2 separate regions of the Homo sapiens genome follow, and region 2 is linked to region 1. The links come from fine-mapping of genetic effects on gene expression. Tissue or cell type: whole blood. Region 1 holds a variant in brackets; the other region holds the start of a gene. All regions are shown on one strand. Distances are between the middles of the regions.

Region 1 (8,109 bases):
AGCCACTGCTCATAGAAATAAAGGAGGACACAAACAAATGGAAGATCATTCCATGCTAATGGATAGGAAGAATCAGTATCATGAAAATAGCCATACCTCCCAAGGTAATTTATAGATTCAATGCCGTCCCCATCAAGCTACTGATGACTTTCTTCACAGAATTGGAAAAAGCTACTTTAAAGTTCATATGGAACCAAAAAAGAGCCTGGATTGCCAAGACAATCCTAAGCAAAAAGAACAAAGCTGGAGACTTCACACTACCTGACTTCAAACTATACTACAAGGCTACAGTAACCAAAACAGCATGGTACTGGTACCAAAGCAGATATATAGACAATGGAAGAGAACAGAGGCCTCAGAAATAACACCATGCATCTACAACAATCTGATCTTTGACAAACCTGACAAAAACAAGAAATGGGGAAAGGATTTTCTATTTAATAAATGGTTCTGGGAAACTTGCTAGGCATATGTAGAGAGCTGAAACTAGATCCCTTCTTTATACCTTACACAAAAATTAATTCAAGATGGATTAAAGACTTAAATGTTAGACCTAAAACCATAAAAACCCTAGAAGAAAACCTAGGTAATACCAGTCAGGTCATAGGCATGGGAAGGACTTCATGACTAAAACACCAAAAGCAATGGCAACAAAAGCCAAAATGGTAACCTAATTATACTAAAGAGCTTCTGCCAGAAAAAGAAGCTACCGTCAGAGTGAACAGGAAACCTACAGAATGGGAGTAAATTTCTGCAATCTACCCATCTGACAAAGGGCTAATATTCAGAATCTACAAATAACTTAAACAAATTTACAAGAAAAAAACAAACAACCCCATCAAAAAGTGGGCAAAGCATATGAACAGACACTTCTCCAAAGAAGACATTTATGCAGCCAAAAGACACATGAAAAAATGCTCATCATCACTGGCCATCAGAGAAATGTAAATCAAAACCACAGTGAGATACCATCTCACACCAGTTAGAATGGCAATCATTAAAAAGTCAGGAAACAACAGATGCTGGAGAGGATGTGGAGAAATAGGAATGTTCTTACACTGTTGATGGGAGTGTAAACTAGTTCAACCATTGTGGAAGACAGTGTGGTGATTCCTCAAGGATCTAGAACTAGAAATACCAAATTGACCCGGTGATCCCATTACTGGGTATATACCCAAAGGATTATAAATCATGCTACTATAAAGACACATGCACACGTATGTTTATTGTGGTTGGAACCAACCCAAATGTCCATCAATGGTAGACTGGATTAAGAAAATGTGGCACATATACACCATGGAATACTATGCAGCCATAAAAAAGGATGAGTTCATGTTCTTTGCAGGGACATAGATGAAGCTGGAAACTATCATTCTCAGCAAACTATCACAAGACAGAAAACCAAACACCGCTTGTTCTCACTCATAGGTGGGAATTGAACAATGAGAACAGCTGGACACAGAGCGGTGAACATCACACACTGGGGCCATTTGGGGGATGAGGGGCTGGGGGAGGGATAGCATTAGGAGAAATGCACAATGTAAATGACGAGTTAATGGGTGCAGCAAACCAACTTGGCACACGTGTACCTATGTAACAAACCTGCATGTTGTGCACGTGCACCCTAGAACGTAAAGTATAATTAAAAATAAATTAAAGATGAATCAGGCTGCACTTTGGTCCACTTCCTTGTAACTAAAAGTCACATATTGACCATTTGCATCCCCATTGTTCCTACAGGATGGATTTCTGAGGTTAAAATTATAAGGCATTTGTTTAAGAATTAAGATGTTTTTCTGGTGACAAATTCCAGCAGAACAGTAAATGCTAACCAGTGAAGACCCCCACAGAGGAACTGATCCTGGTGGTCTCCATCATCTGGAGAATGCAATTTCTTCATCTCTCTGTCCCTTGACTTCACCCTGCATTCTGATTCATCAATGATTGCCACCCTTTGGTTCAACCCAAAACCTTTAAAATCCTTGGCCCTAAACTCCCTGGGGTGACATGTTTGAAGTTTCCTCCTCTTTCCTTGTTTGGTAGCCCTATGATTAAACCTCTTTCTCTGCTCTACCTGGTGTCTCAGTGTATTGACTTGCTGTGAACATTGGCAGTAAATGCTTTATGGTTACAAAGGTTCCTATGAAACAGCAAAATGTGAAAGAAAGAACACAGTTGGAGTCAGGCTGCTTTAGTTTGAATCCTGGTTCTGCCACTTACATATCCTTAGAGGTTATTGAGTCTCTCTGAAGTGTATTTTCATTTGAAGACCATGACTAAATACTTAGTTGTATTAGTTTCCTAAGGATGCCATCACACATTATCACCAACTGGGTGGCTTAAAATGACAGAAATGTATTCTTTCATAGTTCTGGGGGCTAGAAGTCTAAAATCAAACAGTCAGCAGGACCCTGCTCCTTTTGAAGGCTCTAGAGAAAGATCCTTTCCTGCCTCTTTCTAGTTTCTGGTAGTTGCCAGCAGTTCTTGAGGTTCCTAGGTTTATAGCTGCACCAGTCCACTCTCTAACTCTATTATTACATGATCTTCTTTGTGTGTGTCTTCACATGGCCTTTTATAAGGACATTAGTCATTGGATTTATGGTCCACTCTAATCTAATGTGGTCACATCTTAACTAATTACATCCACAAAGACTCTATTTCCAAATAGGTTCACATTCTGAGGTTCTGGATAGACATGTAATCTTAAGAGGATACTATTTAACCCAGTATACTAGCATACAGGACTATTGCAAGGATTAAATAATATAATGTGAATTATCTAGCATAGTTGCTGGCACACAGTAGGCGTTCAACAATTATGAGTTCTCATTCTTATTCTCCAGTCCCAGCCCTGTGACCTCCCCTGTAGAGCTCTTCCCTACCCTGAACCCATTCTGTTTTCACTCAGTTGGCCTTTTCCTTTTTCTGCATTATGTCCCAGTCTCAGGCGTTCTTCCCTGGCTGGTTGCAATTGTTTTGTGCATCAGTTCTTCCCTGGTTCCAGCTTTCAAGAAGCTTTACAATAAATGTGCTTTGGGAACAAAATAACAAAGTACTGAAGATTACTGTAGCAGCAAAGGGACTTCACTTAATTAGCAAAAACGACAAAGTATTTCCAATTTTGACAAGGAAGATGAAAAAAAAGTGAATGTTATTACCTCTGTTAGGGTTCTATAAACTGGTGTAAGCTTTTCCAAAAAAATCAACAAAAGTATTCTGCTTTTGCCTTATTAATCCCAGAACTGGGAATCTGTGCGAAGATAATAACCCCAAATATAGAAAACACCACAAATACTCATCAAAATATAATTGGTAATTATCAAAACATAATTTATAATAGTAAAACATTGGAAGCAAGATAAATGCCTAAAAATAGGGGAAATTTAGGTAAACTATGCTTTGCTTATTTGAAGGAACATTATACTGTTATTTTTAAAATGTAGCTATGAAAAATAGCTATATATATTGTTAAGTGAAAAAGGAGAATAATAACTAAAAATGTATTTGTAATTGTAAAAAGCACATGAAGTAATGTCACAATGTTTAAAAACATTTCCATGTTATGAATTTTCTACCACTTAAAAATATTTCTTTATAGTTTTAAATAGGAAACTCATAATGTAAAAGAGATAATTCACAGACTCAGGCATCTTAATGCGAATGATAAGTGCTATAGATAGTCCTGCTCACCTGTTTGGCGGTGGATAGAGGCTGAGATGCTTGCAGCACTGCTGTTGGCATTGAGTGGAAGCAAACATCATTTCTCAAACAGACTTGAACAAACACATATCGTGGGAGGAGTAGCAAGTCAGATGATTCCTACCTGCATTGCCAGTGAACTAGACTCTTGAGTTATGGGGCCAAAAACAAACCCCTGAGCATACACAGACCGTGGCCTCCATGAAGAAGAACTCATGCAGATGGTAACTAATTTTTGAGTGATACTACCTGTGTCAGGAAAAATCCATAAAATCAAAACAAAGATAATACCACCACCACCACCACCACCACCACCACCAC[A/C]ACAACAACAACAAGAAATTTCAAACTTTGTTGACTTATTTTACATTCCATTCATTTCTGTTTTTGGAGAATAAATAATATGCTTCCCGCCCCCTTCCCCCACCCACCTTGACAAGTAAGAGAAAATGAAGGGCAGGTATCAGTGGGATATATAGGTTTTAAGATAAATCTGTGTTGCTTAGGCCTATGAGTACAAGTTTAATAGAGATGATGTAGACTTAATGATTTATTTTTCTGTCAAGTCAAAGAATTCATAGCTCATCGTCTGAATTTTATTTCCTCATGTGTTGATTAATTAGTTTATTCATTTATTTGGCAAATATTAATTGATTCTTATAAAGTTTTAGTCATGATTTTTTGTGAAGTGGGATATCCCATGAATGAGTTTGCTAGATTTCTGTTTATTGAGTTTAGGTAAAGAGAAATTTTTATTGAGTTTAGATAAAACATTAAGATAATTAAAAAATACTTCAAAAATAAGAAAAAATACATCATTAAATTTAAATTCCATTATATATTCTCAAAGAAGTGGTTCTCAAAATTAAATGTGCGCAAGGATCACCTGACAAGCTTGCTAAAAATGTGGGTTTCTAGGCCCTAATATGAGAGGCTTAGGGTAAGGTTGGAGATACTTGTTTGAAAGAAAGAAAAGAAGATTCTGATGTAGATACTCTACTATTCACACTTTGGGGGAAAAATATAGCCACATGAACACATATGTGCCATAAAACATTTTCATTAAATATTTGGAGTTGAACACTAATTTATCACTACGAAAATAAAACAACCAATAAGATGAAGAAAGTACTAAAAAATATTTGATGTTGCCTCCCAAAACATAGTTTTGCTTTTCCTTTTTTGGAAATCTGTAAGGAAAACTCATCACCAAGCTGTAGATGATGTCAACCCTTCTATTCCTGGCACATTTTTGACACGTAATCCCTTTATTTCACAATATACATGCTGAGGCAATGTTCTTTTCGTTTTATGAGCTGATAATTGTATGTCAATTATATCACAAGTTAAAGGAAAGTTAATAAGGATTGCATTCAGTTACAAGTAGCATTTTCAATATTATTATCATACGTGGGTTCTTTTCAAATACTCCAATATTAGAATCTAGATTTTGATAATGGAAGGTCCATTGTGAAAACCACATATAATTGTGTTGCAAAGACTGCATTATAAAACTCACTTGTTCTATATCCATATGTGTATATATTTTACATGTATATACACAGACACACATACAGTTGTGTCTGTGCTATGAGAAGATAATAAATGCACTTCTCTTTTAGTGAATCACTTTTTTTTACTATGCCAGGCCTTCCTATTTCTCTTTCTTGAGAAAGTAAATGGCTGATTTGCTTTAAACATCTTATGAGAGAATGATGTACAAATCTGCTAAACCTGGCCTTTTTTTTTAGTTGTTTTTACCTGCCAAACTATCTAGTATAATAAAATTAGGGTAGGCTTTAAACTAAAGATATGTTAAGGCAATGATTCTTAACCTTTGTATGCATAACAATCACATGCTATATGTAATATGTTTGTTAATATTCAGACTTGTGGGCCTCCGTTAAATCTTCAGTAAAGCCCAATAGTTTACATTTTAATGAATACTCCACGTACTTTTGAAGCTAATATTCTGCCTTTTACATTTTGAGGAATTACTTCTCAAAAGGAAGTTTGTAAAATAGCTTATGGGAGTTAATTTTGAGTGACCTATGCTTTAAAACCACTGGAGGAACTTACTTTAACCTTAATCAAGGGGCACTTAGAAGTATAAAAGAAGCATTGCAAAGTTTTCCAAACATGGATTTTACATTTGGATGGCCACTGGAAACAAGTACATCATTTTATTTCCTTTTGGAAAGTGTGTGTTGGAAAGTCAGACCTTTGGCAAGAACAGATGCTATCAGGATATGCAAAATCATGATGATGGGAGAACCAAAGACATGACAAAGTATGACGGTGATCAAAGAGACTTGCTCTGTGCCAGGTACTGCTCTAAGCTTCTTATATGAATTAACTTATTTCATCTTACAACTACCCTATGTAGTAGATATTATTACCTTTCCCATTTTACACATGGGAAAATAGAGAAGTAAGGTGTTAAATAACTTGTCTCCTCCTATAGCTTGTGAGAAATAGCCAGGATTGTCTGGACCTGAGCAGTCTGATCTTCTCAGAGCAGAAGGCCCTGGGGTCTAGACCTTCACCCTGCACTATATCACTAGTAAAGGGCTGGTTTTCTGGAAAACTCATTTATGCTTTTGCTAAACAAAGAGATTTTCATATTAAGACAAGTTCTTATGGAGGCAAAGCCATGAACTTCATGCCACTTAGAGCTTGTTTTTTTTGTTTGTTTGTTTTTGTTTTTGTTTTAATTATGTTTTAGAGATCAGGTCTTGCTATGTTGCCTAGGCTGGACTCAAATTCTCGGGCTCAAACAATCCTCCCACCTCAGCCTCCCAAGTCCCAAGTAGCTGGGACTGCAGGTGTGCAACACTGCATCCAGCTTTTCTTGATCTGTAATTCTTTAAATTTCTAGGGAAGACCAACATGAAAGAAAAATGTAAGCAATGGCAGTGCAGATGTGGTCTGGTGTCAATCTCCAGGGTACAATGGAGAGACTTGGAACCACATGCCCAGATGGAATGAGCTGTGCACCTGGGCCTCAATGGAGAGTCTTTGATAAATGGAAGGTGGCTTCCCAAGCAGTATGGACTTGCCTTGAACCAATGGTTTTTGTATTAGTTTTTAATTGCTACTATAACAATTACCACAAACTTAGTAGCTAAAGCAACACAAATTTATAGTCTTACAGTTCTGCAGGTAGGAAGTCTGATACAGGTCTTACTGGGCTAAACTCAAAGCATCAGCAGGGCTGTGTACATTTCTGGAAGCTCTAGGGGAGAATCCTCTTCTTTGCTTTTTCCAACTTTTAGAGGCTGCCCACATTCCTTTCCTCATGGTCCCCTTTCTCCATCTTCAAAGCCAGCAATGGCTGGTTGAGTTCTGTTCACATGGTATCACTTTGATCTTCTCTTCTGTCTTTCTCTTCCACTTTTAAGAACCCTTGTGATTATGTTGTGCCCACTCAGATAATGGAGGATGATCTCTCTATTCTAAAGTCAGCTTATTAGAAACCTCAATTCCATCTTGGTTCCCTTTTTCCATGTAACCCAACATATTCATAGGTTCCAGGGAGTAGGATATGAATATAAGTATTTTGGGGAGTCTTTACTTGCCTACCACAGTTTCCTAAAGAGTAAGGTGACTGGGGAAAAGAGGCATGTTTCAGCACATAGGGCTTATTCATTGAAGACTGGATGTTTGACTTGGAAGGAAAGCTTCCTTCCACTTGGCCAGTGAGATGCCTTTGGCAGTCACGCACACTGGCAGAGCACTAGTAGTGGAAGAGCTGTTAGCTGGCTAGCAGATAGGAGGGGAAGAGGCTGTGTCATACCTGGAAAGCCTGAAGTATCCTTGTTGCCTGAGGACAACTTGATTAAGCTGTTTCTAATGTTTGTAGAGAAGGAAGGTACTAAAGGTTTTTCCCTTAGCGAGGGAAAAGCCAAGCTGCTCCTCAGGTCAGGCATGGAGGGATGAGTGGAGAGGACCTCCTGTAGAGTTGGAATCTCAGTTAAAAGAGGTGGAAATATGAGCCAAATATATCTTTGATTGAAACAGAAACTCCCTTTCTTTCCTTTTCCCTTCCCCACCCTCACTTCCTTCCTTCTAGCTGCCAAATTTGTGCTGTTGCTGTGGTTTGGGAAGCTATGATTACATAAGCACTGCTCTTGTCTAAACAGGCTGTGTCCATAGTGTGAAAGCTAGGCTCATTCATATAGAAAACAACACTAAAGATAACAGCAAAACTTGACATCCACATTCGAAATTTTAAACTTATATTCTTTTAATGAGAGCGAAAGCAGTAATTAAAAAGGGCATGATTGGGGAGTGGGGGAGGTGTACAAAATTTACTTTAAAAATGGTACTGTTGACTGTTGGAGGCTTCTGATTTTTTTACGTTAAGCAAAATGGAAATAGTTGATTGAGACCCTAGAGAAGAATCATGTGATC
Region 2 (8,096 bases), 260 kb before region 1:
ACTCTAGATAAAGTATTGCATTATTCTGCCCATCTGCTTCTGGTGCATTCCATTTTAGCCACAGGCAAAGTAGAAAACTAGGTAGGGTTTGAGCCTTTCTGTTTATCATATTTTAAAAGTTAATCCAAAGGCAATTCTTAAAAGATGAACTAAAAATGAAGTGTACCAAAACTCCAACCCACGCTTTACAAACGCCAAAATGAGAAATGTTCTACGAGGGAGACGTGATGTAATAACACATGAGCTGGGTCTGGCCTCAGACGGCCTAAGGTCCATTACAAGCTGTAGAGCTTTGGCTTGAAGAAACAAAGACAGCCATCTCTAAACCTCGGTTTCTCTAAAATGGTACTGTACCTCGCACAGTTGTCGAGAATTCAAATCCCATACCCTATGTATATCAGCCTGTCCATAATTAGTCACCCTGAGAAACTTTGCTTTCCTGGTCTAGACAGAATGAAAGAAACTGAGTCTGGACCCTGCCCTGTATATGAATTAGAATTTGTGTGCTTTAAGCTGCCCTCCCAGGGCACACCATGGTAAAGAGCAGGGAGCCTAGCTTGACTGTGTAGGTTCGGCTGGATTATTTTAAGCGTATCATTCACTCCCTCAGTGAAGTGAGGGAGTTAGACTAAAACACCTCTTGATATCTCTTCTAGCTTTAAAATTCTACGCAATCCACGGGGGAAGAAATTCAAGAAACCTTGCATACATCAAAACACCAAAAACCCCACTTTCCTTAAAAATGGTTTACAACGAACAGATCACCATCCCTGACATTTCAGGTTTTGCAGTTCACAGTTCACAGTACGGAGGAATGGGCTAAGTCACACTACAGCAGGCTCCCCTCCACGTCTAACAGAGGGGGCGGGGGGTTTTCTTGGAAGACTCGGCCAGTGTCAGGCAGCAAGGGGTAAGGGCTGTCTCGGTGGAGAAAGAAACCCAGGCTTCCGGGAACATAAACTGGGGGATGTAGGGGCAAAGCACCTGCTAAATCTCGTTAGGGTTGGGACTTCAAAGAGGGTTGGGCCTGCTCTGAGAAACAGTGTGGGAATCCCAGCCCCGACCTAAAGGCGACACGTTCACTGCCAAGGACTCAGAGGGAAAGCAGGGAGCGGGGAATGGACGCGGGAGGTGGATGCGAGAAAAAGGCCGAGTAGGGCCCCAGCCCCGGTCACTCACCACGAGCGGGATGGAGCAGATGAGCACCACCAGGGAGGTGGCAATGAGTAAGATGACCATCTGGATCTCGGCGCCCGCGATGCGGCGGAAGCTCCGGCGGCGCCGAAAGTCGCTGAGGCGCGGCAAGGCTGGGGAGGCAGCGGGGTGGCCCCGGGAGGCAACCGAGGCGGCCGCGGCCGCGTGGTGCTGCTCGGTGCCCAGCGAGGTGCGGCGCATGAACTGGCGGTGCATGCGGAGCAGCGCGCCGCACACAAGCACGTTGCAGAGGACGGTGGCGAGAATGAGGAAGGAGCTGAAGCCCGCGTACATGTAGGAGTAGGCGGCGTGCGCCGTCACGTTGGTGGTCCAGTCGATGAAGCACCAGGTGTCTGGGTACTGCAGCCGCGAGCTACCGAGACCCATGTTGGGCAGCGCGCAAAAGAGCACGTTGGACGCATAGACTGCAAAGAGCGTGAGGCCCGCCAATCGCTTGTCCACGTAGTGGCTGTAGAAATAGGCATGGTTGATGGCCAGGTAGCGCTCGACACTCATGGCGCAGATGATGCTGAGGCCGGACAGGCTGAAGAAGAGCAGAATGAAGGTGCTGTACTCGCACAGCGGCTGGCCCCCGGGCCATTGGCCCTTCATGTACGTGGCGATGGTCACCGGGCTCACCAACAAAGTGCCCAACAGGTCGGTGACAGCCAGCCCACATACCAGCGTGTAGAAGGTCGTCTCCTTCTGCTCCTTGCGCGACTTGCACAGCACCACGATGGCCACCAGGTTGCCCACCACCCCGAAGATGAACATCACCGCCGGGATGGTCACTGGGCTGTTCAGCCGGTCGGGGCTCAAGGAGGCGGACGAATTGACCCCGGGAGTGGACATGATAGTGGCTGGCGGTGCGCAGCCTTGGAGTGCAAGGCTGGGTCTGGGGATGGTAGAAGAGAGACAAAGCTGCCGTGAGCGGAAATTACCACTTGTAAGGTGTTAGACCCGCGCCCGAGAAACGATACACTGATAAGACAAGGGGAGCAACTCGATCCTACTTTCTGGATTGTAGCCACTTACCAACTGCGGCCACCAAAATCTCCAGGCTCGCGATACGTCCTGCCAACAGCACACTCTTGCTGACATTAATATTTATAAACTGATTTTCCCATTCCTCTTCCTCCCCACAATCCAACTCACTCCATTGCCAAGATGAATAAGACCCATCTCAAGGGAAAAGTAGCTCGCTAGTGCTATTCTCGATAGATTCTGAATCAATAAAATGCTCACTGAAAACAAGTTACAAAAGCAATTTGGAGAGCGCGCTCTTCCCTTCTTGGCTCTCTTCGGCGAGGGCCGCATCCCTGCGTTCTCTACCCGTTGACCCCAACGTCAGCCCAACGCCATCTCACCTGTAGCGGCAGCAGCGGTGGCAGCCTCACGAGCCCCCAGGGTCAGCCCTCAGATGTCCTGGACCCGCCTCCAACCTGCTTTCACCTTGTCCTGCTCAGTCTGGAAACTGCCAAATCTTCGGCTTCTCAAAGCCGGTCTCAGTGGCTGTCGATTTTTGGACACCGAGGTCAGAGTTGCCAGCTTTCAAAAACTTGGGAAACAAGAGGTGCAGCGGGATGGGTCAGTGAAGAATGGTGCTGGATTTCTTACTCGCTATTTTTTTTCCTTCAAAGACGAGTCCCAGCTTTGCAGTGCCCGCCGGTCTCGTCTGCGGGAGGACAGCGTTCAGGTGTGAGGCTGTGCGCGCAGGTGGCGCGGAGCCTTGGTCCCCAGCTCTGGCTGCCCTCCGCCCCAGCCACGGGCAGCACGGGCGGCTACTGGAGTTTGCGGCTGCCGCTGAGGCCGCTCCTGGCTACCTGGGGGCGGCTCGGGGTCCACTCTGCCAGAGGCTCTGGCCTGGGGCTGTTCATCTTCCTCTCGGGCTGCCGGGCTTGGAGCTCCGCTCTCGCCTTTCCACCCTCTGTACAAACTTTTCTCCTCCTCCAAGTTTCCCTGGCGGAGGCGGAGGCAAACCGCGCGCTGCCCGGGCGCCCATTGGCCGGATTGGAAGGGGGCGGAGCGCGTCCTCCCTGGGCGCCGCAGGGAAGACTGGCGGGGGGCGGTGTCTGGGCTGGGGCGGGGCTGGGCGCGCGGGGTGGGGCGGCTCCCGTGGTTTTCACGCCCTCGGAGGTGCGGAGTGGGAACTCGGAGGGGACCCTGGGAAGCCCCGGTGCTTTCCCCGGCGACCGCTTAGCCGCTCCTGAACTCGGCTTCCAGTGGGGCCACCACTGAAACCGGCGACCGTTTCCGCCTCGCTGCCTGCCGCTCGGAGTGTACTATTTCTTGAACCTCCTGTCCGCGGGCCGCAACATCTAGATCGTGGAAGAGAGGGCAGTTGTTTTAGGATTCTACCTAGGGTTGGCCGAGAAAGGAGAAGAAATACGGTGTCTGCGCTAGCGCGTGCGCCCCGGGGTTAGACTTGGGTGCGCCCAGCGGACGTGGTAGGTGGGTGGGTGGGTGGGTACCAGATTGGGCGGGGAAATAACGAAGAATCCATCCTCTCACCATAAAAGGAGTTGGAGTCAGTTGGCAGTGCCCAGACTGCGGGCTGCGCTTGGTCGGGCACCCCAGGCAAAAAAGAAAAAAAAAAAAGAGAAAGAAAGAGGAGGAGACAGTGATTGCAGCCTCTCCCGGCGCAGGTGGCAGAGCCTTGCGGCTTTGGAGAGAGGTGGAGCCTTGGTGAGGTTGGGAGGACTGCCTAACTGCGATCTTTTTCTCCATTCTTCCTCCTGGGAACTTCTCCGCCCTGAAAGGGTAGCGTGAGCTTCATGCCTTCGGCCGGCCGTGTTATACTCGTTAGACCCAATTCACCATGAATCCTTTGAAAGACTAGTGGAGAGTGAGAAGGGGGTTTCAAAGTCACTGGAGTAAAGGAATTCTCCAAGCACCACCTCATGATTAATTCTTGGAAAAGCCTGTTTGCGCGGCCCTTAGAATCATTTTGACTTCTTGTCTAATGGTGAAGTTTTTCTCTGTAATCCTTCTACTCTGTTTTCTAAAACCAGAACTAAAAACCTAAAAAATTGTAAAACTTCATGGTGTAATTAAAACCCCTTCACCATTTTTTTTAAGTAAGATTGTGTGGCCTTATTGCACAATTTAAATTCCTGGAAAAACCTCTTCCCATCTGCAGTGTACAAGCATTCTAACATATTATGTCTCCTCACAGGGTAAGTAAATAACTGGATTCTTTTATGTGATAAGCAGGTACCCATTTCTTAAATGTTATTTCGTGAACGAACAAACCTCCTAACTGGTTCTTCAGTTAGTCTCAGCAACACATGGGTAATAAGAGAAACTAAAAGGGCTTTCCGATTTCAAGTAATTACAGGTCATAAAATATCCAGAATCATATTTACTTGCAAAAGGCACTATATGGATATACTAATAAAGAATTATTCTGTTTATACTATTTACTTAATAATATGAGAAAGAAAAATACACATTTGTTAGCCAATATTAAGATTGATGGTGATTGGTCATTTTCTTAAAAATCTTCTTTTAATCAGTACTCTAATCACTTCTGTTGTCGATGCTTCCTTTGAACAGTAACCTCTAGGATTGTGTCAGCACAGAAAACAAATCAACATTAGAAAAAAGGAAACTGCACACTCTGCGCCATTCCTCACTAACCACATTGCTTTGCTATCACTCATGTCAGTTGCTTGTCAGTAAATATATGGAGGGGAGGTTGGGAAGTCCCTTATATTCACTTTCTGCTAATACAAATTTTTTTTTTCAATTTTCTTTCCATATGAAGCTTGTAAAAGAGAAAACAATTGGTTGCTATTTATTAATTTAAGAATGATGAAGAATATATTAAATATAAAAACTGAGACACACTGCTGAGATAATTAGTAACTGTTACAGGTATTAGCATGTCATTGACAAACCAGACTTGTTATCAATTGAGCTATTTTTCTTACTAGTCCTTTGAATTTTCTTTCTACAGTAGCTTTAGGAAGAAGGAAAATAAATAACCTAATGCTCAATACTAAAAAATTGTAATGAGGTTTATCTGTAGTCTCTTTTGTTGTACGATTCTTAAAACTTAAATTTAGCTTTCAAAAGTAGAAGTTGAAAGTTTAGGTAGCAAATTATTTTATTTTCTTAGTTTGAAAAACTGGGACAGTGGAGCTCAGTTTCTCTTACACTCTGCCAGGAATTTGCATTGCAAAAGGAAAGGAAAAATTGCCATAATTATGTGGGCAATTCTTGTCATTTTTTTTCAATGAAAAGATTTTTATTCTAAGCACTTTAAAAATTCTCCCTCGCAGTTTCTGCCACAATCCCTACTTCTCTATGCTGGAAGACCCCAGTTCAGTTATTTAAAACTGTCATTAAATAACTCTCTGAAGGTTTGAACTACTCCAAGAACTGTTTGATCAGTTTGATTGCTCTGTTATAGCTAATTATTTGACGAGTTTTTTGAGTAAACATATTAAGGTGGGAACCCATTTATAAACAAAGGCCGCTTGGGAGCTAGTAACCACTTTTAGTTTTCCTTGGATCAAAGGAAATATGGGACAGACAGGACCTGGGCTCAGCCAGCAGGAGTGGGGTGAGAAAGGGGATCATTTCCAGGAGGAAGGCAGCAGGATGAGTCAGATCTGGCCTGGACCCCTTCCTGAGCCGCAGCTGGCAGGATCTTAGAGCATTCCTGAAGCACTAATATTCATGTAGCAAAGCCTGTGCAAATTGTGTTTGCTTTTCTCTTTCATGACAGGCCATGCAGAGACTCAAAACAGTGTGAAAGGCATCTATCAGGTACAAATAGCAAAGTACCCTTGGACACATTTGCCCTCCACAGGCTCTTCCAGTTGGTTTAGTGGATTACAAACATGGCATTCACCTGACCCTAAGATGACTGCCTTCCCTTTTTAGTGGTACATTTCAAATGTGTGCCCTCTTAATTATTTTCATTTTCTAAGCATGAAGTTTATGCTGAGCCCAATGCCTGGAGCTGACACATGTCAGTGCTGTGATTAACTCCCCAACATCTTCATGTGGTGATAAATTACTGCTGTGGAGGCTGGCCCCTACTGAGTGATTGCTTCAGGCTGCTCTGACAGCCTGCTCTGACAATTACACTCCTCAAAGTAATAGCTTTCTGCTCTTTTATTCTGCTCGCTCCCTTTTTTTCCCTCCAGTTTCACCACACGCCCATGTGGATTGGACCAATGGGCAAAGAAAGGAGATTATTTACCTGCAGTGGCCTTTTTTTTTTTTTTTTTTGAGACAGATTCTCGCTCTGTCGCCCAGGCTGGAGTGCAGTGGTGCAACTTGGCTCACTGCAACCTCCGCCTCCTGGATTCAAGCAATTCTCCTGTCTCAGCCTCCCTAGTAGCTGAGATTACAGGCATGTGCCACCTTGCCTGGCTAATTTTGTATTTTTAGTAGAGATGGGGTTTCACCATATTGGCCAGGCTGGTCTCGAACTCCTGACCTTGTGATCCACCCCCTTCGGCTTCCCAAAGTGCTGGGATTACAGGCGTGAGTCACCGCTCCCAGAGTGGCCCATTTTTGAAGATACAAGTGGAGAAATAAAGCCTTACTAGTTAAAGAGTCTCCCCTACAGGAGGAAGGACCTTCTGATTATATTTCGGTTTCTTCTCATACCCAAATTGCTGTATGTTTTAGCAATGTGGAGGATGCACAGAAACTCCCTGGCTTAATCAATAGCAGCAGCATCACCTGTAGCTCATGTTAGTTTATCACTTTCCATAGCAGTTTCACACTTGGCGTTCACATGCGCTTTTATTAGCAACCCTCTGAGGAGGTTAGGTAGGTGTGACAGAGTCTGCTGTGTTGCACCAAATCTTGTTTCCATTTCCTCTGGAACACATAGCTGCGTATTATTTCCCAAACTGACTTCTTGTGGTTAGGTGCAGCTCATGTGACTGAATTCTGGCCAATGGAATAGAGGTAGAATTGATATATGCCACTTCCAGGCTGGGTCCCTATAAAACCCAGTCCTTTGTGCTATTGTTCGTCCTCTGCCAACATAATACAGGTCCCGGGTATATGGCAGAGCCACTAGATAGAAGGTGACTTGGCCTCTGAGTGCCTGTATGGACCTCATTCCAATCCCAGCAACCCTCACTGGACAATGAAGTGAATGAGAAATAATGCACTGAGATTTGAGGGGTCCCTTGTTTCAGCAGTTAGCCTATGCTGACTAATTTAGTATGGTTGATGTAATCTTCCTTCAGTGAGTGAGAATGTGGGCACAGAGATTCTATGTGGCTTGCTGAGAGTCACAAGAATTAGTAAGAATAGCTGAAATTTATCCAATGCTCAGCCTATGTGAGACATCATGCTAACTGCAACATGCATACGCTGTCAAATTCTCACAGCAAACCTATGAGGAAGGTACTAGGCAGTCAGATGCCCATTTCACAGATGAGCAAATCAAAGTTTGGTTAACGAATGCTGGGAGTGTTTTTTTTTTTCTTTTTTTTTGTGGCAGGGTCCCAATCTGTCCCCCAGACTGGAGTGCAGTGGGGCGATCTTGGCTCACTGCAACCTCCACCTCCTGGGGTCCAGTGAACCTCAGCTTCCCAAGTAAGCCGGGACTACAGGCAGGTGCCACTATGCCTGGCTAATTTTTGTATTTTTTTGTGGAGATGGAGTTACCCCATGTTGCTCAGGCTGGTCTCGAACTCCTGGGCTCAGGCGATCCACAAGCCTCCACCTCACAAAGCGATGGGATTACAGGGGTTAGCCACCACACCCAGCCCAGGTGTTGTCAGTTTTGAAAGGCTGCCCAGCAGCTGAACTCCTTTTCTATTAGTAAGAATCCTCCATTGCATAATATTATTTGGAGGCAAGACCTAGCCTGCCATGAGAGAAGCTAAATGGGCTGGATTTTCTCCTTCCATCCTCTGCCACGGCTT

What was found. PIP is the estimated chance that this variant, and not a neighbour inherited with it, causes the effect.
Region 2: it holds the start of PTGER4, and the variant in region 1 is fine-mapped to the expression of PTGER4 in whole blood (INTERVAL, PIP above 0.99).

What each region holds. Positions count from the first base shown.
Region 1 is chr5:40,410,780-40,418,888 of GRCh38, reverse strand. No RefSeq gene overlaps it. Among named protein-coding and RNA genes, the nearest start is that of LINC00604, 170 kb to the right of the region's middle. The variant A/C (reference allele first, on the strand shown) is at 4,021.
Region 2 is chr5:40,674,944-40,683,039 of GRCh38, reverse strand. It overlaps PTGER4 (prostaglandin E receptor 4), which reads right to left and starts at 3,125. Exons shown (of 3, transcript NM_000958.3): 1 at 2,562-3,125; 2 at 1,180-2,089. The coding sequence starts at 2,046. RefSeq lists an enhancer at 1,580-2,107 and a silencer at 3,243-3,462.